Regions from separate parts of the Homo sapiens genome. Here region 2 is linked to region 1. Evidence: fine-mapped expression QTL. A gene starts in region 1. The other region holds a variant in brackets. All regions are shown on one strand. Distances are from middle to middle.

Evidence for each region.
Region 2: its variant is fine-mapped to the expression of NECTIN2 in whole blood (INTERVAL, PIP above 0.99).

Annotation. Positions count from the first base shown.
Region 1 is chr19:44,834,144-44,849,948 of GRCh38, forward strand. NECTIN2 (nectin cell adhesion molecule 2) reads left to right here and starts at 12,154. Exons shown (of 9, transcript NM_001042724.2): 1 at 12,154-12,470. The coding sequence starts at 12,383. RefSeq lists silencers at 10,518-10,917, 11,785-11,834, 11,915-11,994, 12,125-12,224 and an enhancer at 13,864-14,846.
Region 2 is chr19:44,868,289-44,876,288 of GRCh38, forward strand. NECTIN2 (nectin cell adhesion molecule 2) reads left to right here. Exons shown (of 9, transcript NM_001042724.2): 3 at 3,565-3,861; 4 at 5,628-5,745; 5 at 6,042-6,190. Among named protein-coding and RNA genes, the nearest start is that of TOMM40, 19 kb to the right of the region's middle. The variant C/G (reference allele first, on the strand shown) is at 4,772.

The DNA.
Region 1 (15,805 bases):
TAGAAAGAAACAATGCAGTGACACCCAGCACCTTCATGTATTTATTTATTTACTTATTTATTTATTCATTCATTCATTTATTTATTTTTTGAGTTGGAGTCTTGCTCTGTTGCCCAGGCTGGAGTGCAATGGCACGATCTCAGCTCACTGCAACCTCCACCTCCTGGATTCTCCTGTCTCAGCCTCCTGAGTAGCTGGGATTACAGGTGTGCACCACCATGCTTGGCTAATTTTTGTATTTTTAGTAGAGACAAGGTTTCACCATGTTGGCCAGGCTGGTGTCAAACTCCCGACCCCAGGTGATCTGCCCACCTCGGCCTCCCAAAGTGCTGGGATCACAGGCATGAGCCACCTCGCCCAGCCTTATTTATTTATTTAGAGACAAGGTCTCGCTCTGTCATCCAGGCTGTAGTGCAGTGGTGCAATCACTGCTCACTGCAACCTTAACCTCCCAGGGCTAAGTAGTCCTTCTGCCTCAGCCTCCCGAGTAGCTGGGACCACAGGCATGTGCCACCACGCCAGGCTAATTTTTTATTTTTGTAGAGATGGGATCTCACTATGTTTCCCAGGCTGGTCTTGAATTCCTGAGCTCAAGCCATCCTTCTGCCTTGGCCTCCCAAAGTGTTAGGATTACAGGCATGAGACACCACGCCCGACCTCCCACATCTCTCTTTTTTTTTTTTTTTTTTTTTGAGACGGAGTCTCACTCTGTCGCCCAGGCTGGAGTGCAGTGGGGCGATCTCGGCTCACTGCAAGCTCTGCCTCCCGGGTTCACGCTATTCTCCTGCCTCAGCCTCCCAAGTAGCTGGGACTACAGGCACCCGTCACCACGCCTGGCTAATTTTTTATATTTTTAGTAGAGACGGAGTTTCACCGTGTCAGCCAGGATGGTCTCGATCTCCTCACCTTGTGATCCACCCGCCTCGGCCTCCCAAAGTGCTGGGATTACAGGTGTAAGCCACCGCGCCCGGCCTCCCACATCTCTTTAATTTTATATATTTATATGTACATATATACACGCATATATATTTATATATGTATAAATAAATACATACATATATATGTGTATATACACGCGCACACACACACACATATATATAGAAGCTTTTACTTTAAAGCTTTGATTATTGCTAAGTTTATTTTCATTGTCTCAAGATCTGTTTAACCCTGGAGCCAGACTGGGTCAGTGGGTCTGTGTGGTGCCTCATGTACCTGTCTCTGCCCCTTGAAGTTCTGTTTACCACCTCCAAGAGGCATAGCCTGCAGTCTCAGCAAAAGGATAGATTCCCAGGAAGAGTGCGAGAGAGGTTTGGGGCCCAGGTGGGCAGCCCACCCAGCTGACCCCACCAGGTGGGCATGATATCATGATATCAAATATGCTAAATTTGTGTCTGTGTACATCATGTTCTGGCCCCAGGGAAATGAGCACTTTGCTGGTGAGGTTGGTGACATTTTGTTTACCATCTATGCCTGAGGAGGAAAGACTGGAGGAAAGAAAGACCTAAGAGGCCAGTTTATATTCACAAACATGGAAGTCAAGCCTGTTCCACCTTTCCAATGCAATAGAGCACCTACTGGGAAAGCCATGCCTGGCCAGCCCCTGGCAAAACACACCTGAGGATTCATTCCTCCATTCACGCAATCATACCTTCAAGAAAAGTTCAGAGGGCGTGGTGGCTCGCGCCTGTAATCCCAACAGTTTGGGAAGCCAAGGCTGGCTGATCACCTGAGGTCAAGAGTTCGAGACCAGCCTGGCTAACATGGTGAAACCCCATCTCTACTAAAAATACAAAAATTAGCCTGGCATTGTGGTGCATGCCTGTAGTCACAGCTACTCGGGAGGCTGAGGCAGGAGAATCACTTGAAACTTGGAGGCGGAGGTTGCAGTGAGCTGAGATCGAGTCACTACACTCCAGCCTGGGTAACAGAGCGAGACTCCGTCTCAAAAAAATAAAAAGTGTATTGAGTGTTTACTGTGTGCCAGGCACTGGGGAGACATCAATGAACAAACTTCACAACCCACCAGGCACAGTGGCTCACGCCTGTAATCCCAGCACTTTGGGAGCTCAAGGCGGGAAAATCACTTGAGGTCAGGAATTCAAGACCAGCCTGGGCAACACAGCAAGATCCCATCTCTACAAAAAAATTTTTAAATTAGCCAAACATGGTGGCACACACCTGCAGTCCCCACTACTCAGAGTGGGAGGATCGCTCAAGTCCAGAAAGTCAAAGCTGCAGCGAGCTATGATGGCATTACTGTACTCCAGGCTGGGAGACAGAGCAAGATCCTGTCTCCAAGACATAATAATAATAATAATAATTCACATCCTAATGGTGTTGCTGGACTCCAGTGGGGAAAGTGGTCAGTGGAATTCCTTAGAAGGTCCACAGACCTAGGAAGAGACTTCAGGAACTGCAACCAATCCCTGACTCTCTAGGGCCTGAGGAGGCACTTGGATGGGAACACCCTCCACCTCCCAAGAGAAGCAGTTGACTCCTCCACGAGGAAGCACTGGACAGCCAGGAGGTGCCTCTTGTTAACCAAAGTGGGCTGTTGACCTTGAACTCCAGCTCAGAGATCTTGTCCCTGGTCTTGTTCTCAAGACTCATCAGGTTCTCTCTTTCTCTGGACATGGAATCTAGATCTTCAATTTTGAAGCCAAATCTATGGGAGTAAAACAAAGAGATTTGATTAAAACAAAAGATGTTGTGCAAAACTCAAAAAATAAAACAGGCTGGGCGCTGTGGCTCAGGCCTGTAATCCCAGCACTTTGGAAGGCCAAGGCAGGAGGATCACTTGAGCCCAGGAGTTCGAGACCAGCCCTGGCAACAAACAGAGACTCTGTCTCTACAAAAAATGCAAAAATTAGCCTGATGTGGCGGTACACGCCTGTAGTCCCAGCTACTCGGGAGGCTGAGGTAGGGGGATCCCTTGAGCCTGGGAGGCTGAGGCTGCAGTGAGCCGTGATCCAGCCACTGCATTCCAGCCAGGGCAACAGAGCGAGATCCTGTCTCAAAAAATAAAATAACAGTAGTCCCAGCACTTTGGGAGGTCGAGGCAAGCAGATCACTTGAGGTCAGGAGTTCTCAACCAGCCTGGCCAACATGGTGAAACCCCATCTCTACTAAAAATACAAAAATTAGCCAGGGGTAGGGGGGCACACCTGTAATGCTAGCTACTGGGGATGCTGAGGCATGAGAATCACTTGAACCCGGGAGGCGGAGTTTGCAGTGAGCCAAGATCACGCCACTGCACTCCAGCCTGGGCAACAGGGCGAGACTCCGTCTCAAAACAACAACAAAAATAAACATGAGAAGCTAGATGACTGTAGCTGGCTGATCACCTGCTTGGCAGCCACAGCTTTTACCTGTGTCTTGGGCTTGGGACTCATGGAGCAGAGTGGGTGTCGCCCACAGGACGCATGAATGCTTGGAGCTTACTGGATCCCTGCATCCCTCCCATCTGTGTTCAGCTCACATTCTTAGTATGTCTAACAGGTCTCATGAGTTGCTTTTTTTTTTTTTTTGAGACGGAGTCTTGCTCAGTTGCCCAGGCTGGAGTGCAGTGGCGCGATCTCAGCTCACTGCAACCTCCGCCTCCCGGGTTCAACTGATTCTCCTGCCTCAGCCTTCCGAGTAGCTGGGATTACCGGCGGGTGCCACCACGCCTGGCTAATTTTTTGTATTTTTAGTAGAGACAAGATTTCACCGTGTTCGCCAGGATGGTCTCGATCTCCTGACCTCATGATCCGCCTGCCTCAGCCTCCCAAAGTGCTGGGATTACAGGTGTGAGCCACCACGCCCGGCTTGAGTTGCTTCTTAATATCCATCCTTCATTTCACCTGTCTGTGTCCTTATTTATAGGGCTCTTGTTCCCTATATAACAGAATTGAAAATTCCCTTTAAAAAAATACAGCAAATGCACACAGAGGATCAGAGGATGGAGGGGAGAATTTGATGAGATAACCAGGGAAGTATTTAGTACAAAGCCTGGCACAGAGTCCATGTGCAGTACATGTTAATTATTGTGATTATCTAAGGAAAAATAAAGAGACACAGAGAAAAGCAAAAAGGTTGCCTTAGGCCAGGTGCGGTGGCTCACACCTGTAATCCCAGCACTTTGGGAGGCCGAGGCAGGCAGATCACCTGAAGTCATGAGTTCGAGACCAGCCTGGCCAACATGGTGAAACCTTGTCTCTACAAAAAAAAAAAGACAAAAATTAGCTGGGCATGGTGGCACGCGCCTGTAATCCCAGCTACTCAGGAGGCTGAGACACAAGGATCACTTGAACCCAGGAGGCGGAGGTGGCAGCGAGCCGAGATCACACCACTGCACTCCAGCCTGGGTGACAGGGCGACACTCTGTCTCAAAAAAAAAAAAATAAAGGCCAGGTGCGGTGGCTCACGCCTGTAATCCCAGAACTTTGGGAGGCCGAGGCAGGCAGATCACCTGAGGTGAGGGGTTCGAGACCAGCCTGGCAAACATGATTTAGTAGAAACCCCGTCTCTACTAAAAATACAAAAATTAGCTGGGCGTGGTGGCAGGCACCTGTAATCCCAGCTACTCGGGAGGCTCAGGCAGGAGAATCGCTTGAACCCGGGAGGCGGAGGTTGCAGTGAGCCGAGATCACACCATTGTACGCTAGCCTGGGGGGACAAGAGCGAGACTTCGTCTCAAAAATAAATAAATAAATAAACAAATAGGCTGGGCGCAGTGGCTCACGCCTGTAATCCCAACACTTTGGGAGGCCAGGCGGGCGGATCACGAGGTCAGGAGATCGAGACCATCCTGGCTAACACGGTGAAACCCTGTCTCTACTAAAAATACAAAATATTAGCCAGCATGGTGGCAGACGCCTGTAGTCCCAGCTACTCGGGAGGCTGAGGCAGGAGAATGGCGTGAACCCGGGAGGCGGAGCTTGCAGTGAGCCGAGATCGCGCCACTGCACTCTAGCCTGGGCAACAGAGCGAGACTCCATCTCAAAAGTAAAATAAAATATAATAAAATAAAATAAATAAAATACAAACACTCCCTTAGTCCAGGGCAGGGACCAGATACAGAGATACCACTCTAAAGGCAGACATTGGTGTTGGGGTTTGGTGAGTTGGATGGCGAGTGAACAGATGGCTAGTGGGAAGGGAAAGAGAAGAGGAAAGGGTTCTCCATCCAGTACCTGGTCCCCAAGTTAATGAGTGGAGGATCCCAGCCTGCCCCACCAGGAGGGAATACATTTGCATAAGGTCCCTCATCTGCATGGCATCCCAGGGAATTTGCATAGAGATGGCAGCCTGGGGCCACATCAGTATGACCCCTCCTCCCAAGGGTTGAAACTCCAGCCTACATTACAAAGGCCTAGGGCAATAGGAAAGTGGGAGGGGTGAACCTCAGGATCTGGGGCTCCAGGAAGTAAAGAGAAGTTGGTAGTAAACTACCCTTGCTCTTTAACCTTCTGTGGTTCCCAGAGCATGAGCCGCCCTTCAGCTGGCATTCTGGACCTTCTAAGATACTGACCCTCACATCCCCTGCTCCCGCTGTCACCACCCTCCTACCTGGAATGCCCTTCCCCATATCCCGTGCTGTGACAAAGCTTGCCTATTCTTCAAAGCCTGGACATCCTGAAGAATTCTGAAAGCTTTCACCACCAGCCCCTCCTTGCCCTGCCCTTGGAAATTTACAAAGCTCTGTGCATCTCCCAGACATGTACAGATTTTTTGGGGTATATAGTTTATTAGTAAGGTTATATTTGATTGCAAATGACTATATATATATATATATATATATATATATATATATATATATATACACACACACACACACACACACACACACACACACATAGTCTCATACATATATATATATATATAGTCTATACATATATATATAGTCTCATATATATATATATGTATACCAGGAGTCATGTCTCATGCTTGTAATCCCAGCAGTTTGGGAGGCCAAGGCAGGAAAATTGCTTGAGCCTAGGAGTTCAAGACCAGCCTGAGCAACCTAGTGAGAGCCTGTCTCTACAAAAAAGTCAAAAGATGAGTCTGGCAGGCCGAGCACGGTGGCTCACGACTGTAATCCCAGCACTTTGGGAGGCAGAGGAGGGCAGACCACTTTAGGTCAGGAGTTCAAGACCAGCCTGGTAATATTGTGAAACCCCGTCTCTAATAAAACTGCGAACATAGCCAGGCGTCGTGGCCCAAACCTGTAGTCCCAGCTACTTGGGAGGCTGAGGCAGGAGAATCACTTGAACCCAGGGGGCAGAGGTTGCAGTGAGCCAAAATCACACCACTGCATTCCAGCCTGGGCAACAGACTGACACTCCGTATCAGAAAAAAAAAAAAAAAAAAAAAGATTGGCCGGGTGCGGTGGCTCACGCCTGTAATCCCAGCACTTTGGGAGTCCGAGGCGGGCAGATCACAAGGTCAGGAGATTGAGACCATCCTGGCTAACAAGGTGAAACCCCATCTCTACTAAAAATACAAGAAATTAGCTGGGCATGGTGGCGGGCGCCTGTAGTCCCAGCTACTCGGGAGGCTGAGGCAGGAGAACGGCGTGAACCCAGGAGGCAGAGCTTGCAGTGAGCCAAGATCGCTCCACTGCACTCCAGCCTGGGCAACAGAGCAAGACTCCGTTTCAAAAAAAAAAAAAAAGATTATTCTGGCACAGTGGCGAATGCCTATAGTCCCAGCCACTTGGGAGGCTGAAGTGGGAGGATTGCTTGAGCCTGAGAGGTGGAAGCTTCAATGAGCCATGATTGTACCACTGCACTCCAGTCTGGCCAACAGAGCATGACCCTGTCTCAGAATAAGAGCCGGGTATGGTGGCTCACGTTTGTGATTCCAGCACTCTGGGAGGCCGAGGCAGGCAAATTGCTTGAGCCCAAGAGTTCAAGACCAGCCTCGGCAACAACCCAAAAACCCATCTCTACAAAAAAATAGAAAAATTAGCCAAGCATAGTGGCACATGCCTGTAGTCCCAGCTACTCGGGAAGTTGACATGGAAGGATCCCGAGCCAGGGAGGTCATGGCTGCAGTGAGCCATGGTAATGTCACCACACTCCAGCCTGAGCGACAGAGTGAGACCCTGTCTTAATTAAAAAAAAAAAAAAAAGACTGAGGGGAGGAAGTGGTTAGGGGAGCTGCTGCTGCTGCTAAAAGAAAGGAAAGGTTGCCAGGCAGGTAAAATACTTGGCATCAGCTCCATAGCTCCGTCAGGAAGCCTTTGCCCCTACCTATGCCCCTACCTTCTAGTGGTTATGGCTCTTCAGTGAAGTGCCACCTCTGGGACTCCTTGACACTAAAAGTCAACTCCCCAGGCGGGCGTGGAACCCACCCAGTCATTTGTCACCAAACTTGGTGCTCAGCCTCATGCTTGTGACCCAAGGGTGTGAAACTCCAGCCTACACCTCTGGGGCATTTTTTTCTTTCTTTTTTTTTTTTTCCTTTTTTTTTTGGCAGAGCCTTGCTGTCACCCAGGCTGGAGTGCAGTGGCACAATCTTGGCTCACTGCAACCTCCACCTCCCGGGTTCAAGCGATTCTCCGGCTTCAGTCTCCCAAGTAGCTGGGATTATAGGCACCCGCCACCACATCCTGCTAATTTTTGTATTTTCAGTAGAGACAGGGTTTCACCACGTAGGCCAAGCTGGTCTCAAACTCCTGACCTCAGGTGATCCATCTGTCTCGGCCTCCCAAAGTACTGGGATTACAGGCTTGAGCCACCATGGCCAGCCTCCTGGGGCTTTCTTCCTGGGCTCATCCCTGCTCACAAAGAACAGCCAGGAGAGAGCTAAGCCCACTCATTCGTAGGCCAGGAGAAAGGAGGTGCTAGAGGCCTTCCTAGAAGAAGACTTCCTGGGGACTGGTTCTTTTGTTCAATGGATAAACGGGGGTCCCAGGATTTTGCAAAGCAAGTTAGTAGCAAGGCTGGCACTAAAACCCAGAGGTCCTGGTCCACAAACCTGGCCTCAGATTGGGGAGAGAAGGTCAGAGAGATCTAAAGCACATTTATTGCCAGGCGCGATGGCTCACACCTGTAATCCCAGCACTTTGGGAGGCTGAGGTGAGAGGATCACTTGAGGGCAGGAGTTCAAGACCAGCCTGGGCAACAAAGCGAGAATCAAATTCTACAAAACATTTAAAAATGCACCGAGCAGCCGGGCACAGTGGCTCACGCCTGTAATCCCAGCACTTTGGGAGGCCGAGGCAGGTGGAGCACGAGGTCAGGAGATCGAGACCATCCTGGCTAAGACCATGAAACCTCGTCTCTACTAAAAATACAAAAAATCAGCTGGGCGTGGTGGCAGGCACCTGTAGTCCCAGCTACTCGAGAGGCTGAGGCAGGAGAATGGCATGAACCTGGGAGGCGGAGCTTGCACTGAGCCAAGATCGCGCCACTGCACTCCAGCCTGGGCGACAGAGCAGAGACTGTCTCAAAAAAAAAAAATGCACCGAGCATAGTGGCACATGCCTGTAGTCCCAGCTACTCAGGAGGCTGAGGCAGAGGATCCCTTGGGCTGGGAAGTTTGAGGTTAGAGGGAGCCAAGATCTGCACTCCAACCTGGGCGACAAAGCACAACCCTGCCTCAAAATTAAATACATAAATAAATTAAGCACATTTATTTATTTTACTGTTTTATTTTATTATTATATATATTTTAAGAGACGGGGCTCTACCATGTTGCCAGGCGTGTCTTGAACCCCTAAATTCAAGTGATCTGCCAGCCTTGGCCTCCCAAAGTGCTGGGATTGCAGACATGAGCCACTGCGCAAGGCCTATTTGTGTATTTATTTATTTTAGAGACAAAATCTCTCTGTCTCCCAGGCTGGAGTGCAGTGGCTCAATCACAGCTCACTGCAGCCTCAACCTCCCTGGGCTCAGGTGATCCTCCCACCTCGGCCTCCCGAGTAGCTGTAGCTGCTATGCATTTATTATGTGTGCGCCTATTTGTCCAGCCATCCTCACACCCAGTTTGTGCCAAGCCTGAGACACAAGCTATCTGGAGCTCACATGGCATGGAGGTTAAAAGCACAGACTGGCCGGGTGCAGTAGCTCACCCCTGTAATCCCAGCACTTTGGGAGGCTAATGCAGGCAGATCACAAGGTCAGGAGTTCGAGACCAGCCTGACCAACATGGTGAAAGCCCGTCACTACTAAAAATACAAAAATTAGCCGGGCGTGGTGGTGCGTGCCTGTAATCCCAGCTACTCAGGAGGCTGAGGCAGGAGAATCACTCAAACCTGGGGGGCGGAGGTTGCAGCGAGCCGAGATTGATTGCGCCACTGCACTCCAGCCTTGGCAACAGAGCCAGACTCCGTCTCAAAAACAAAAAGAGCACAGACCATCCGGGCCCAAAAGAAGCACCCGGCCTGCTATGTGTCTTTGCTGGGTGGCTTGGGGCAAACAACCACCCTGTGCCTCAGTTTACTTTTCAGTGAAATGGGGATCACCATGGTGTCCCCTTCATGGGATCCCTGTGAGGAACTAACTAAGAGAAATAAGGTGCTTAGAAGAGTCAGCTCTGGCTCTGCCATTTTGTTTATTTTTATTTATTTTTAATTTCTATTTTATTTTATGTTTTTCAGACTGAGTCTCACTCTGTTGCCCAGGCTGGAGTGCAGTGGTGCGATCTCGGCTCACTGCAACCTCCAACTCCCGGGTTCAAGCGATTCTCCTGCCTCAGCCTCCCAAGTAGAGACAGGGTTTCACCATGTCGGCCAGGCTGGTCTCGAACTCCTGAACTCAAGTGATCCACCCGCCTCAGCCTCCCAAAGTGCTGGGATTACAGGCGTCAGCCAGGGCGCCCCGCCCTGGCTCTGCCATTTTGTAACTCAGTGAGTCACTTCATCTCTCTGCTTCAGTTTCCCTATCGCCCATGGCGCTGCATGGCTTACATGAGATAATATTCGCAGTGCACTTAGATCAGTGCCTGGCACACGGTAAGTGCTGACTACATGTATTAACAGTATCGTAAGTGCCGGGCGCGGTGGCTCACACCTGCAATCCCAGCATTTTGGGAGGCTGAAGCGGGTGGATCAGGAGGTCAGGAGTTTGAGACCAGCCTGACCAACATGGTGAAACCCCGTCTCTACTAAAAATACAAAAATTAGCCGGGCGTGGTGGCGCGCGCCTGTAATCCCAGCTACTCAGGAGGCTGACTCAGGAGAATCGCTTGAACCCAGGAGGCAGAGGTTGCAGTGAGCCGAGATCGCGCCACTGCCCTCCAGCCTGGGCGACAGAGCGAGACTCCGTCTCAAAGAAAAAAAAAAAAAAAGGATCATAACTAAGACTCGAATGCGGAGGGATAACAGCCTCTGCTACTTGAAACCTAGTCCTTCTGGGGAGGAAAGCCCAGGTGTGTGGCAGGTGGAAGGGAGGGCGAGCCTAGGTGGTCCTCTTGCTAGGGCAAGAAGCCCCCAAGCACCTGCCCCCAGCTGAGCAGCTCCGCGCCTCCTGGCCCTGGACGAACTTGGGCCCAGACTGGCGCTCCGTGGCACCCCCTCCCCCGGCCTCCCGCTTCGCGCCCTCATCCCGCCCCCCGGCGCGGCCTCACCAGCTCCCCCTGGGCAGCCCAAAGAATGCGAAGAGGTAGGTGGGGGTAGGGAGGAGGGCGAGCCGCTGGGAGAGACAAAGGGCCCGAGTCTGAGCGAGAGACACAAAGACGCGAGGAGGCTGGGGAGATAGGGGAAGTGGGACAAGGACGCGGGGAGTGACCAGGTCCGGAGGCCGGACTGGAGCCCAGCCCCACCCAGCCCGGCCGGGCCAGCGCAGCGCGGGGGCCGGTCTCTGCTGCCCCCTGGCGGGTGGCTGCGGTGAGAAGGCGGCGCGGAGCAGGTGTTGGGAGGGGAGGACCAGGGCGCGCAGGGAGGTAGGGAGGGAAGGAAGCAGAGAACAGAGCAGGGACAGAGAGACAGCGAGAGAGACTCGCACGCAGAGACAAGAGACGCCGAGAGGGAGACACAGAGAAAGAGACAGGGACAGAGAGACACAGATAGAGACAGAGAGAGACACACGGAGAGACAGAGACAGAGAAGCACAGAGATAGAGAGGCACAGAGATAGAGACAGAGAAACACAGAGACAGAGAGGCACACAGAGACAGAGAGGCACAGAGACAGGCCGATAGAGACAGAGATACACAGAAATAGAGACAGAGACAGAGAGGCACACAGATAGAGACAGAGAGACACAGAGACAGAGTCAAAGGATGGAAAGAGACATGGGGACCAAGTGACCCAGAAACAGTGACAGACAGGCCGGGCTTGGTGGCTCACGCCTGTAATCCCAGCATCTTGGGAGGCCGAGCCGGGAGGATCGCTTGAGGCCAGCCTCAGCAACATAGTGAGACCCCGCCGCCCCCCCGCCCCGTCTCTTTTATTGAAATAAAGAAACAGTGACTGACAAAGGAAGACCAGAAACAGAGCGACACCGAAGCATGAGGACGGAAAGACCCAGAGAGGCAGAAATACAGGGACAGAGAGGAAGACCCAAAGAGAGTGAGAGAGACACAAAGACACGTAAGAGAGACAGAGAAATCCAGAAAGAAACGAGTGCAGCGACACCTAGAGTTCGGGGCAGAGATTAGAAACGCACGAGGGTACGAGAAACAGGCTCAGGGCGATGGGCTCGACCTGCGGGGAGGTCGCACAACCGGGACGTGCTGGGGGCAGAACCGTAAAGCCCCACGTGCCTCAGGCAACTGTGATGAGAGGACCCGGGCAGGCAGGAAAGGGCAGGATTCGAACTGTGGGTGGGACAGAGGCCAGGACGGACTGAGCTAAGAGACCGAGAGAACTCCGGCTAGGGCGAGGGGCGGGGCTGGTGGAGGCGGGGCTGGTGGGGGCGGAGTCGGCCGGAAGGGCCGAAAGGGGCGTGGCAAGACCTTGGCGAGGCGGCCGGTAGGCAGGGGGCGGGGCGTGGGAACTACTCGGGAGCAGAGGGGGCGTGGCTAGACCTTAGGGGGCGTGGTTTAACGCCGGGAGCGAAGGAGACAGAATTCTTTGGCAGGGGCGACCTTAGAATCCTGGGGAGGAGCGAGAATGGAATCCCGGGGAGGAACAGGGGTGGAATCCGGGGGGCGGGGTCAGAACGCCAGGAGGGGGCGGGGCCGGAGCCAGGGTCGGCTTGACTCGGGGGAGCAGCGGGTGGATCCTGTGACGTCAGCGGGTTCGAACCGCCGGAGCTGAGCGAGAGGCCGGGGGTGCCGAGCCGGGCGGGGAGAGCTGGGCCGGGAGAGCAGAACAGGGAGGCTAGAGCGCAGCGGGAACCGGCCCGGAGCCGGAGCCGGAGCCCCACAGGCACCTACTAAACCGCCCAGCCGATCGGCCCCCACAGAGTGGCCCGCGGGCCTCCGGCCGGGCCCAGTCCCCTCCCGGGCCCTCCATGGCCCGGGCCGCTGCCCTCCTGCCGTCGAGATCGCCGCCGACGCCGCTGCTGTGGCCGCTGCTGCTGCTGCTGCTCCTGGAAACCGGTGAGACGAGCGGACGGCCCCCTGCCCTCGCGCGGACCCCCTCCAACCTTACCTTCCGAGCTGGGGAAGCCGAGCACCTTCCCCGCCCACCCCCGGCTCCCCGAGCCCCCTCTCGCGTGCCCCCTTCCTGGCTGGCCCCACAGACTCCGACCCCCTACACGTCCGATTCTCTCGAGGAGACTCTGACCCCTCCTTTCTGCATCTCTCTCACCACCACCCCCATCCTTCTTAATCCAATTGCCCATCCTACGCCTGCTTGTCTGTCCCCCTCCCCATTTCTCGGATTCCCGCGCCGAAAGGGTTAAATCCCAGGAAGGCCTGGTGCCCCCTCCCCACCCCGCGCCGAGTAGTTCACCCGGATCTGGGTCTCTGTCTCCTCTACCCCTCTCAGGAATGTGGGGAATGTTCCCCCCACCTACCGCAGTAAGGTCTCGAGGAAGAGGCGAGACCACCTCCCTCCCCTATTTTTCCTTCTTCCCGGCTTGGGCGTCTGAGGCCCGGAGAGAACTGAGGACAAGCGGACCTGATTCGGGTCCCTTGGAGGGCTAAGGATAAGAGTTCTGGCGACTTAGGGGGAAGGGCCTGAGCTCGGAGCTCCAACCCCGAACCTCAGGGAGTTGGGGGTTCTGACTCCGTGGACTCCAGAAAAATTAGGGGCCGGGGGCTCCGTCTTCAGGGTCCCTGGTAGAATGGAGGCTAGGCGCTAAGTCTAACTGGGATCTAGGTAAAACTGGGGGCGAGAGAGGATCAAACTTGTAGCTTCTGGATTTAATTGTGGGCAGGGGGCTTCGTTTTCAGGGTTCCCGGCAGAACCGGGGGACAGGAGACTCGATCTCGTGGGCTTCAGACTTAATTGTAGGCAGAGGAACGTCTTCTGAGATCCAAACAGAAGTGCGAGCAGCGGGCCCCGTCTCTTGGGCTCCAGATATGATCAAGGGTCGAAGGCTCTGTCTTGAGGCTGGAGTCTCAGTCGCCTGAGTCCCAGATAGAACGGGAGGCCCCGAGTCCCAGAGGCTGGGAGACTCCTCCCTTTCCCTATGAATGGTCGGGGGCGACGGAGACGTCGCCGGGGAAGTTTTCCTGGTTTCACTCTCGCCGAGCCAGGGAGGGGCGGGGCGGGCGCTCCTGGCTCCGGGTTCCGGACTCCCCGGTTTCGGGACCTTATCTATCCTCTGGTAGCGCCTTTGTCCTCAGAGCCATAGCAGGAGGTGGACGAGTGGAGCCGCCGCCCTTATCCCCCGTCCCTCCCATTGCTATGCCTTGGACCCCCTGGCGTCCTTCCATCCACCCCACTAGGGGAGGAGAGCGGCCCCCCTGGGGAGGGAGGGGCTGGGAGGGAACCCTTGAAAGAGGCGCTGGCCCCGCCCCTTGCAGGTGACCCGGTTGTGTATTCCCAGCGACAAACTCTGGGATGCTAGAGTTTCCCGAGGGTTTGCGCAGAAGAGAGCTCAGGGGGATCTTGGGGGAACCCCGGCCACCTCTCTGGCCTCATTTCCCCCAGGATGGCTCTCACTGGCCTCCCAGCTTTGACCCAGAGCTGGGAACTCCGCTTCCATCCCCTGCCTCTCCCTTCAGGCAGAAATAGGCAGATGAGATCAGAACTGGCACCTCTGGGTGAATTCTCCGAACCCACCAGACCCTGAGCCTACTGTTAGCTTGGTGCATGATCTCACCGAAGGCTCCAGCTTGCCCTGGGAAACAGGTCCTGTTTCTGTTTCCATCTTAGAGATGAGGAAACAGGCTCAGCAAAGGCAAGCAGCCTTCTCAAGGTCTCACAGCAGGTCCCGGGGAAGCCGGGCTCCGGTTCTTCAGAGCCCCGCACCGGGTGGGCTCCAGGAAGTGCCTCTGAGTTTCCATTTCCTCCCTCGTAAAAAAACTGAGATAACAATCCTTTCCCTGCGGACCATCCGGAAGGCTCCCAGGCCCCACTGATTCCCTGTGAAACCTCTTAGCCCCTGGAGAAGGAGCTGTCGGCCCCTTTCTTGACCACCCCCACCCCAATCCTTCGCCTCTGCTGTCCACTGGCTGGCCGGCTGGCATGTGCTCGCTCTCCCTCTCTCTCTCTCTCCCCTCCCCCTCCCTGTTTTCCTCCTTCCCTCACTTTCTTTCCCCCTCTTCATCTCTCTTCGTTTCTCACCCTTTCTCTCTCCATCCCTCTCCAAGCTCTTTCTCTCTTCTCCTCTCCCCATCTCTCTCTCTCCTCTCCGTCTTTCTCTGTATACCTGTCTAGCTCCACTGCCTCCCCCGCTTGGCCTCCTCGGGGAATGCGGGTGCACCACCTGGGCCCCCAGCTGGGCCGGCTCCCCTCCCCCAGCTTTCTTCCCTGCCCATCCGTGTGTCCATGTCCGCCAGGCAGCCCCACGTAGTGGAGGGGGAGGGGAGCAGAGGGACGGCAGCCTGGCTGTCTCCTCTCATTAGGGAAGGGGGACTGGGCAGAGGAGAAGTTGGGGGGTGGGTATATAGAGAGGCTGGAGCTACAAGGATGGGTACAGAGGCCAATAGAGGGAAGCGGTCAGACACAGATTTAGGAATGGGGTCAGAGACACGTGTAGGAATGGAATCAGAGGATAGAAGGGGAGTGAAATGCCGGCACAGGGTCGGGGGAGTGAAATACCGACACAGGGATGAGGCTGAAAGACACTGGAATGGGACGGAGGAGGGTGGGGGAAGGGAGCTAGACATAGATACCAGATGAAGGCAGGGACAGGAAAAGGAAAGGGGTTTGGTGACAGGCAGGGAGCCCCAAAGACTCCAGCTGTGGGACAGCAGAGGTGCCGTGACCCACGGAGGTCAGGGTACAGGGGGCCTCAAGGCCAGCGACATGTGGGGGCCACAGGGAGTGATGAACACAGAAGGGACAGGGAGCTGGGCACATGGGCCAGCTCCCCCGCCCCTGCCTGGGACGCTGTTACATTTTTAATGTCCCAGCAGTGCTGACAAATGGAGCAGGAAGGGGAGGAGAAGAGGGGACCCAGCAAGATGGGCCAGGCTGTGAGAAGGTGTGTCAGAAATATGGGGAGACAGGGCACTGGAGACCCAGGAGGCAGGGAGACTCCACAGTCAGAGACAGAAACAGAGACGTAGACCAGAAGGCTTGTGAGAAGAGAACCCCAGGAATCAAGGCAGAGAGCCAGGTTCCAGACACAGGGAGACCCAGACGGAGAAAGAGACCGGAGATGTCAGACATACAGAGGAAAGAGGAAGAGAGTGACTAACGGGGACAGGGTATCTTCTCAGGCTAATGAAAATGTTCTATAATTGCTCGGGTGATGGATGGCTAACTCTGAATATACAAAAGCCACTGAACTGTACACTTTAAATGGGTAGATTGTATG
Region 2 (8,000 bases), 30 kb after region 1:
GGAAGCAGAGATTGCAAGTGAGCCAAGATTGCACCACTGCACTCCAGCACGAGACCCTGTCTCAAAAAAAAAAAAAAAAAAATAGGACTCCCAGCGGGAAGGTGACTGATACTTGGCAAAAATAGAGAAGGCAGGGAAGATTTTTTTTGAAGGATGCTTTTTTTTCTTTTCCTTTTTCTTTTTTTTTTTTTTTCTTTTTTTGAGACAAAGTCTCACTACATTGTCCAGGCTAGACTCGAACTCCTGGGCTCAGGGGATCCTCCTACCTCCGCCTCCTGCATAGCTGGGATTACAGGCATGAGTCACCACATCCAGCTACGAATGCTCTTTCTTTAAATCTTGAGGCTGGGCGTGGTGGCTCACTCCTGTAATCCCAGCACTTTGGGAGGCCGAGGCGGGCGGATCACGAGGTCAGGAAATCGAGACCATCCTGGCTAACACGGTGAAACCCCATCTCTACTAAAAATACAAGAAATTAGCCAGGCGTGGTGGCGGGTGCCTTAGTCCCAGCTACTCGGGAGATTGAGGCAGGAGAATGGCTTGAACCCGGGAGGCGGAGCTTGCAGTGAGCCGAGATCGCGCCACTATACTCCAGCCTGGGCGACAGAGTGAGACTCTGTCTGGAAAAAAAAAAAAATATGTTGGAAGTCCCCTGGGAGCCCACCTTCCCTAGGCAACTTCCCAGAAGCCACGTCACTCTGGATGCCTTTTCTTCCCCCTTCTCAGCCCAGAGCGTCTGAGAAGGTCACCCTGTGCTATCCTTGAGTAAACACTTCCCTTTCCAGTAACACATGAAACCACAGCCGTTTTCCATAATACAAAGGACAGCTCTTCTCCTCCCCACCCTCACAAACGCCTCTCTTCTTGTGCAATCATTTGTTCTCATCCAGAGATAACTTCAGGGCTGGGCACGGTGGCTCACACCTGTAATCCCAGCACTTTGGGAGGCTGAGAGGCAACAAGAGCAAAACTCTGTCTCAAAATAAATAAATAAATAATGAGACTCAGAAAATATGATTAAGGGCCAGGCGCAGTGGCTCACGCCTGTAATCCCAGCACTTTGGGAGGCCGAGGCAGGCGGATCACGAGGTCAGGAGATTGAGACCATCCTGGCTAACACGGTGAAACCCTGTCTCTACTAAAAATACAAAAAAATTAGCCGGGCGTGGTGGCGGGTGCCTGTAGTCCCAGCTACTTGGGAGGCTGAGGCAGGAGAATGGCATGAACCCAGGAGGCGGAGCTTGCAGTGAGCCGAGATCGCATCACTGCACTCCAGCCTGGGCGACAGAGCGAGACTCCATCTCAAAAAAAAAAAAAAAAAGAAAAGAAAATATGATTAAGTGTAGGGTTTAATCAAGCCCAAAGCTTGAGGATGACCACCTGGGAGCATAGATTGAAGTTGCCCTGAATATACACTTCAAGCAGGGGCCAAGGCAAGCAGCTCTTGCAAGTGAGCTTTTGTTTGTTTGTTTGTTTCTTGGAGAGAGGGTCTCCAAAACTACAAATAAAAATTAGCTAGGAATGGTGGCGCACACCTGTAATCCCAGCTACTCAGGAGGCTAAGGCAGGCGAATTGCTGAAACCAGCAAGGGCAGGTTGCAGTAAGCTGAGATTGCACCACTGCACTGCATCCTGGGTGACAGCAAGACTCTGTCTCAAATTAATAAAAAAAAAAGAGAGAGAGAGAGATAACCTCAAGAGCTTCCGTATACACACTGGTGCAGAAGTAAGGAACAAAACAGCCAAAGCCTCTGTCTTCATGATGCGTGAGCCACCAAGGAATAGTTGGCCAGAGTCGGCGGTCAGGAAAGTGCCCTTGACGAAGTGGGGCTTGGAGTGGGGTCTGGAGAAGGAGGCCAAAGCAATCCAGGCACAAAATCACCAACCAAAACCCCAAAGTGGGTGGAGGCAGAGACTGAGGAGGGCGTGGATGGGGAGCATGTGGAGTGGCCAGGGGAGGTGGCCATGGGGAAGTGGTGGGCTCGGGCCCTGAGTCACTATTCTAACAGCTTGGAGGGCGGCCAGGAGGATGTGGGGAGGCTTGTTGGATGCTCCACGATGGTCAGGGGAGAAGGCGGTGGGAAGGGAGAGCTGGGAAGAAGAGGAGAGTCAGACCGTGTTGAGAAGTTCAGAGGTGGATACCCAGGTCCAGAAAGCAACAGAAGATGTGAGTCTGGGTGGGGGACACACATCATAAGCATGAGCTGCTATTCTTCCTGGAGTTTTGTTTTTGTGATTTTTTTCCATGTTTTCCAAGAGAATGAGGTGGAAAGGGTATAAAAAAAAGAAACGGCTTTGAGATTTTCTGCCTTTATCACACTTCCAGTCATTCAATCATCTAATGGTGATTACAGGAAAAGGAACAGGGGGCCTTTCCAGCTGGACCTTTGAACCACAGTACTCAGTTACTCGCTCGGCCTTGATTTGCTTTTTTTTTTTCCTTTTTTTTTTTTTTCTTTTGGAGACAGAGTCTCACTGTCACCCAGGCTGGAGTGCAGTGGCACGATCTCGGCTCACTACAACCTCTGCCTCCCAGGTTCAAGCAATTCTCTTACCTCAGCCTCCCGAGTACCTGGGATTACAGGCACCTGCCACCACGCCCAGCTAATTTTTGCATTTTTAGTAGAGATGGGGTTTCACCACGTTGGCCACGCTAGTCTAGAACTCCTGACCTCAGGTGATCTGCCCACCTGGGCCTCCCAAAGTGCTGGGATTACAGGCATGAGCCACTGCGCCCATCCTAATTTTTGTATTTTCAGTAGAGATGAGTTTTCACCATGTTGGCCAGACTGGTCTCAAATTCCTGGCCTCAAGTGATCCACCCTCCTCAGCCTCCTAAAGTGCTGGTATTGCAGGTGTGAACCACCACGCCCGACCAGCTTTTTTTTAAATCTCAGCCTCCTCTAGGCTTTTGGACCCTGTCTCTGCATCTCTGGCAGGGCGAAGAGACAGTATACCGAAATGGCCAGGCCAGGCGCCTGTAACCTCAGAGCTTTGGGGAGCCGAGGTGGGAAGATGGCTTGTGCTCAGGAGTTTGAGATCAGCCTGGGCAACATAGCAAGAACTCATCTCTACAAAAAAATTTAAAAATTAGCCGGGCATGGTGGTGCATGCCTATGGTCCTAGCTACTCTGGAGGCCAAGGCGGGAGGATCACTTGAGCCTAGGAGGTGCAGGCTGCAGCAAGCTATGATCACACCACTGCACTCGAGACCAGGTGACAGAGCGGGCCCCTGTCTCTAAAAAATAAATAAAGTAAAATAAAATGGGCAACACTTGGATAGGGCAGTGCAGGCCAGACATTACCCTAAGCCATTTACCTATCAATGTATTATTTAATTCACACAGCAATCCTAGGGGTGGGTACTTTCATTATCCCCATTTTACAAAACAAGAAACAGCTACAGAGTTGCAAAACCACTTATCCCAAGCCAGGCCGCTGATAAGCAGCAGAGCTGGGATTGGAACCCCGGCAGTTAGGGCCTAACCACCCTGCTCCTCTGCTGAGTGTTTGTTGAATGACTGCCGGTGAGGAGTGACGCACCCCCTCTCCTCCTCTCCCCAGCCAAGCCCAAGAACCAAGCTGAGGCCCAGAAGGTCACGTTCAGCCAGGACCCTACGACAGTGGCCCTCTGCATCTCCAAAGAGGGCCGCCCACCTGCCCGGATCTCCTGGCTCTCATCCCTGGACTGGGAAGCCAAAGAGACTCAGGTGTCAGGGACCCTGGCCGGAACTGTCACTGTCACCAGCCGCTTCACCTTGGTGCCCTCGGGCCGAGCAGATGGTGTCACGGTCACCTGCAAAGTGGAGCATGAGAGCTTCGAGGAACCAGCCCTGATACCTGTGACCCTCTCTGTACGCTGTGAGTGTATCGGGGGTGACCCCTCCCCCATCAAAACTGCCTACACTGGCTTCTCTAAAGCACTGTCTACATTGTCTCTGAATGTTGTCTACGTGGGTTCCCTGAAGCCAAATTCTGCACTACCTTCCTGCCATTGTCTACACTGGCTCCCATGGGCAAATCTACATACTTCCCCCTCATTGTCTACATTGGCTTTACTGGGTTCCTGCATGCTGTGCCTAGTCTGTGGTAACCTGGGATGGGCTTGCAAGAGCCAGTTTGATACATTTCTTTCCAATTCCACATCCAATGAAGTCTTCTCGGTAGCTTGAAATCAACCTTGGGGAATATTTACACCAAGGAAATTGGCAAACCCTAGAAATGGGGGCTTCTTTTATTCCCCAGAGAGTTGGTTTACCAGCAAAGAGCTGCCCCCAACAGTGTCTTTTCTGGCTCCCATGGACCCCGGTTGACACTGCCCCTGGACCGTTAGATCAATCATGCTGGGCCATGTCCACATGTCTACATGTCTACACTGCCCAACCTAACATCGTCTCCACACCTTCCCATACTTCTGCCTTGACTTCCCTAGGTGCCATCTATACTGAGTCTCCCAGAGTCTCTACACCGACCCCTGATCCTTGATATTATTTACATTGTATTTATTATTTATTATTTATTATTATATTTTTATATATTATATATTATATAAAATATATAAATTATATATTATATATTAACATATATTTTGTCATTATTTATTATTGTTATTTAATATAATATAATTACATTATATTATATATTACATTACAGGCTCCACCCCCCGGGCCCTGTTGATCCTGACCCCTCCCACTGGGTTTTTTGCTAGCTCTTCCAGAAACTGCCTATACTCACACCTCGTAATGTTACCCAGAGAGGCCACCCTGGCACT[C/G]TTCACACAGAATCCCTCAAATACTGGCTTAACCACCTCTTCCACCACTGTCCAAAATGACCACATATCCCAACTCAATGTTGTCTACACTAGCTCCCCAGGCAATGCCTCCACTTACACAGATTCCCTAAGCCAAGTCTACACCAGCTCCCCCAGGCAACATGCATCACGTGCGCCCATAAGTGCAACAGCTCCCCTGAGCCTCGTCTGTGCCACTTTCCTCCCGGGACCTACACTGGTTGCCCAAACCCTGTTTTGACATCCTCCCTCCATGCCAAAAACACACACACAGGCCGGGTGCGGTGGCTCACACCTGCAATCCCAGCACTTTGGGAGGCCAAGGCGGGCAGATCACTTGAGGTCAGGAGTTCGGGACTAGCCTGGGCAACATGGTGAAACCCTGTCTGTACTAAAAATACCAAAATTAGCTGGACGTGGTGGTACATGCCTGTAATCCCAGCCATTTGGGAGGCTGAGGCGGAGGGATGGCTTGAGCCCAGGACGTGGAGTTTGCAGTAAACCAGGATCACCCCACTGCTCTCCATCCTGGGCAACAGAGCAAGATCCTGTCTCAAAAACACACACACACACACACACACATTATTTGTAGTGGCTCCCTTAGGCACTGCCAGCACTGAACAATAACTCCCACAAAATTATCCACAGTGGTTTCCCTGAACAGTGTCTACACTGACATCAGCACACAACAGCCTGGACTGATTTGCCCCAGACAGTTTTGACTGCTGTACCTCCTGCCAACCCGCCCCGTTTCTTTAGCATTCCTGTCTATCTGCTAACTTGTCCACCCGCTCTGGGATTCTCCTCCTTGCTGATCCAGTCCCCCCATTTCCCCCAGACCCTCCTGAAGTGTCCATCTCCGGCTATGATGACAACTGGTACCTCGGCCGTACTGATGCCACCCTGAGCTGTGACGTCCGCAGCAACCCAGAGCCCACGGGCTATGACTGGAGCACGTGAGTCACGTGGTCTCAGAACCCTGGGTCTGAGGGAGGCGGGGCTGGGGGCCTGGACTCCTGGATCTAAGGGAGGAGGGGCTGGGGGCCTGGACTCCTGGATCTGAGGGAGGAGGGGCTGGGCCTAAATTCCTAAGTCCTCCAGGATGAAGGGAGCTTGCATTTTGGCAATTTGGGGTCTCCGGGAGTACTTAGGTCCCTGGAGCTTGGCTCCTGGTGGGTGTATCTTTAGGGATGAGGCCTGTGCTCCCCTCTCGACCTTGGTATCCCTCTCACCTGACCCCACACCCCTCCAGGACCTCAGGCACCTTCCCGACCTCCGCAGTGGCCCAGGGCTCCCAGCTGGTCATCCACGCAGTGGACAGTCTGTTCAATACCACCTTCGTCTGCACAGTCACCAATGCCGTGGGCATGGGCCGCGCTGAGCAGGTCATCTTTGTCCGAGGTGAGTGGGTCTTGGGGGCCGTGTGTGGAGACCTGGGTCCGCTCCCCTGGAGTTCTGCCCTTCAGGACTTGGGGCTGCACTGGGGGAGGCTGCGCCGCCGACCTGGGAGGGATGCAGACCTGCCTGGCTGAGGGGAGATGAGGGTTGGCCTTCCCCTCGTGGCCTCAGACTGGGGTCTGGATTTGGGGTGTCGGGGTAGGTGAAGGCAGCAGAGTTGGGGGGTTGAGGACTTTGCTCGGGGTTCCTAGAAAGTAGAGGCCTGGGTAGGGTCCTCACGAATAGACCCGAGGAAGCTGCCCTGGGCTCCAGCTCCTGAGAAAGACGCACACCTAGAGTCAGGCATGCAAACTTCAAAGAGACAGAAACCAAGAGCTCCCACCCCCAGAAACACAATCCGGCCCCAAGGCACGGAGCCAAAGAGGAAAAGCACAAAGCCAGACCATCACCCAGTGATGGAAACTGGGTCAAACTCACAACTGCAGGGCCACACACCTAGAGCGCGGCCGGGACTGTTAACAGAGCCATGCTTCCTGGGACAGAGAGACCCCTGGGTCCTGGAGATAGGGCCAGAGACCCCTCCTGTCAGAGCCACAGCTGGCAGGATCCACAGCCACAGACACTCCCTGTGCTGAGAAATTCTGTTGCAGAGATGCATCAGAATCCAGACACTCACCTGGATGGTAACCCTGCACGCTCAAACCCATTGTCACCAAGACACACACCCAGGAGGACAGTGGCACCAGCCAAGATAGACTGAACGAAGCCAGATGACACCTGGAAAGGGACATTCTTTTTTTTTTTTTTTGAGATGGAGTCTCGCTCTGTCGCCCAGGCTGAAGTGTAGTGGCGCAATCTCAGCTCACCGCAACCTCCGCCTCCCGGGTTCAAGCAATTATCCTGCCTCAGCCTCCTGAGTAGCTGGGACTATATGCGCTCACCACCAAACCCGGCTAAGTTTTGTATTTTTAGTAGAGACAGGGTTTCACCATATTGGTCAGGCTGGTCTCGAACTGCTGACCTCAGGTGATCCACCCGCCTCGGCCTCACGAAGTGCTGGGATTATATGCATGAGCCACTGCGCCTGGCCAGAAAAAGACATTCTTAGAAACACGCCAGGGCGACGGTCCATGCAGCACACCTGTGCAAACACGCAATGTGCAGGCCCCCCAGAAACATGACTGAAGGTGTAGGGACAAACTCCCAGACAGGGGCTGTCCCTGTCATGCAGACAGACTAGCCACGGAGGGACAGAAGCAGACCCCCTTACTGAGTCATAATCTTAGAATGCACACACACTTGCAGGGACACCCGAGGGAAAACAGACACCTCTTCAGGAATCCAGATACAGCCAGGGAGATAGGACACCCCTACGGGAAACACTGTCACAGACAGCAAACCCAGAGAGACAGCTGTCCCGCTCTGGGCTCGCCTGGCGCGTGAGGATGCACATAAGTCCCCGGAGGAAGACGTCACACAGACACGCTGGGGGCAAAACTAATCCAGGACAGCAACGGCTGCACACGGAGGAATGTCATCCCTCACTCACAGACCCTCAGACGGAAAATCAAAGACATCCTGGGAGGAGCTTCTTCCCAGGAACCCTCCCGAAACTCCCCGAAACTCCTCCGAAATTATCCAGAAAGTCCGTTAGGGAGATTCTCATTCAACAAATATGTGTTTCCTGTTTGCTAGGCACTCTTGCTGAGGTTGGGAATACAATGGTGAATGAGCCACAGTCCCTGCCCTCAGTAGCACACCCAGGGGAGGGTCAGCTCCACCCGCCCAGACAGACACCGAACTGGAAATACAC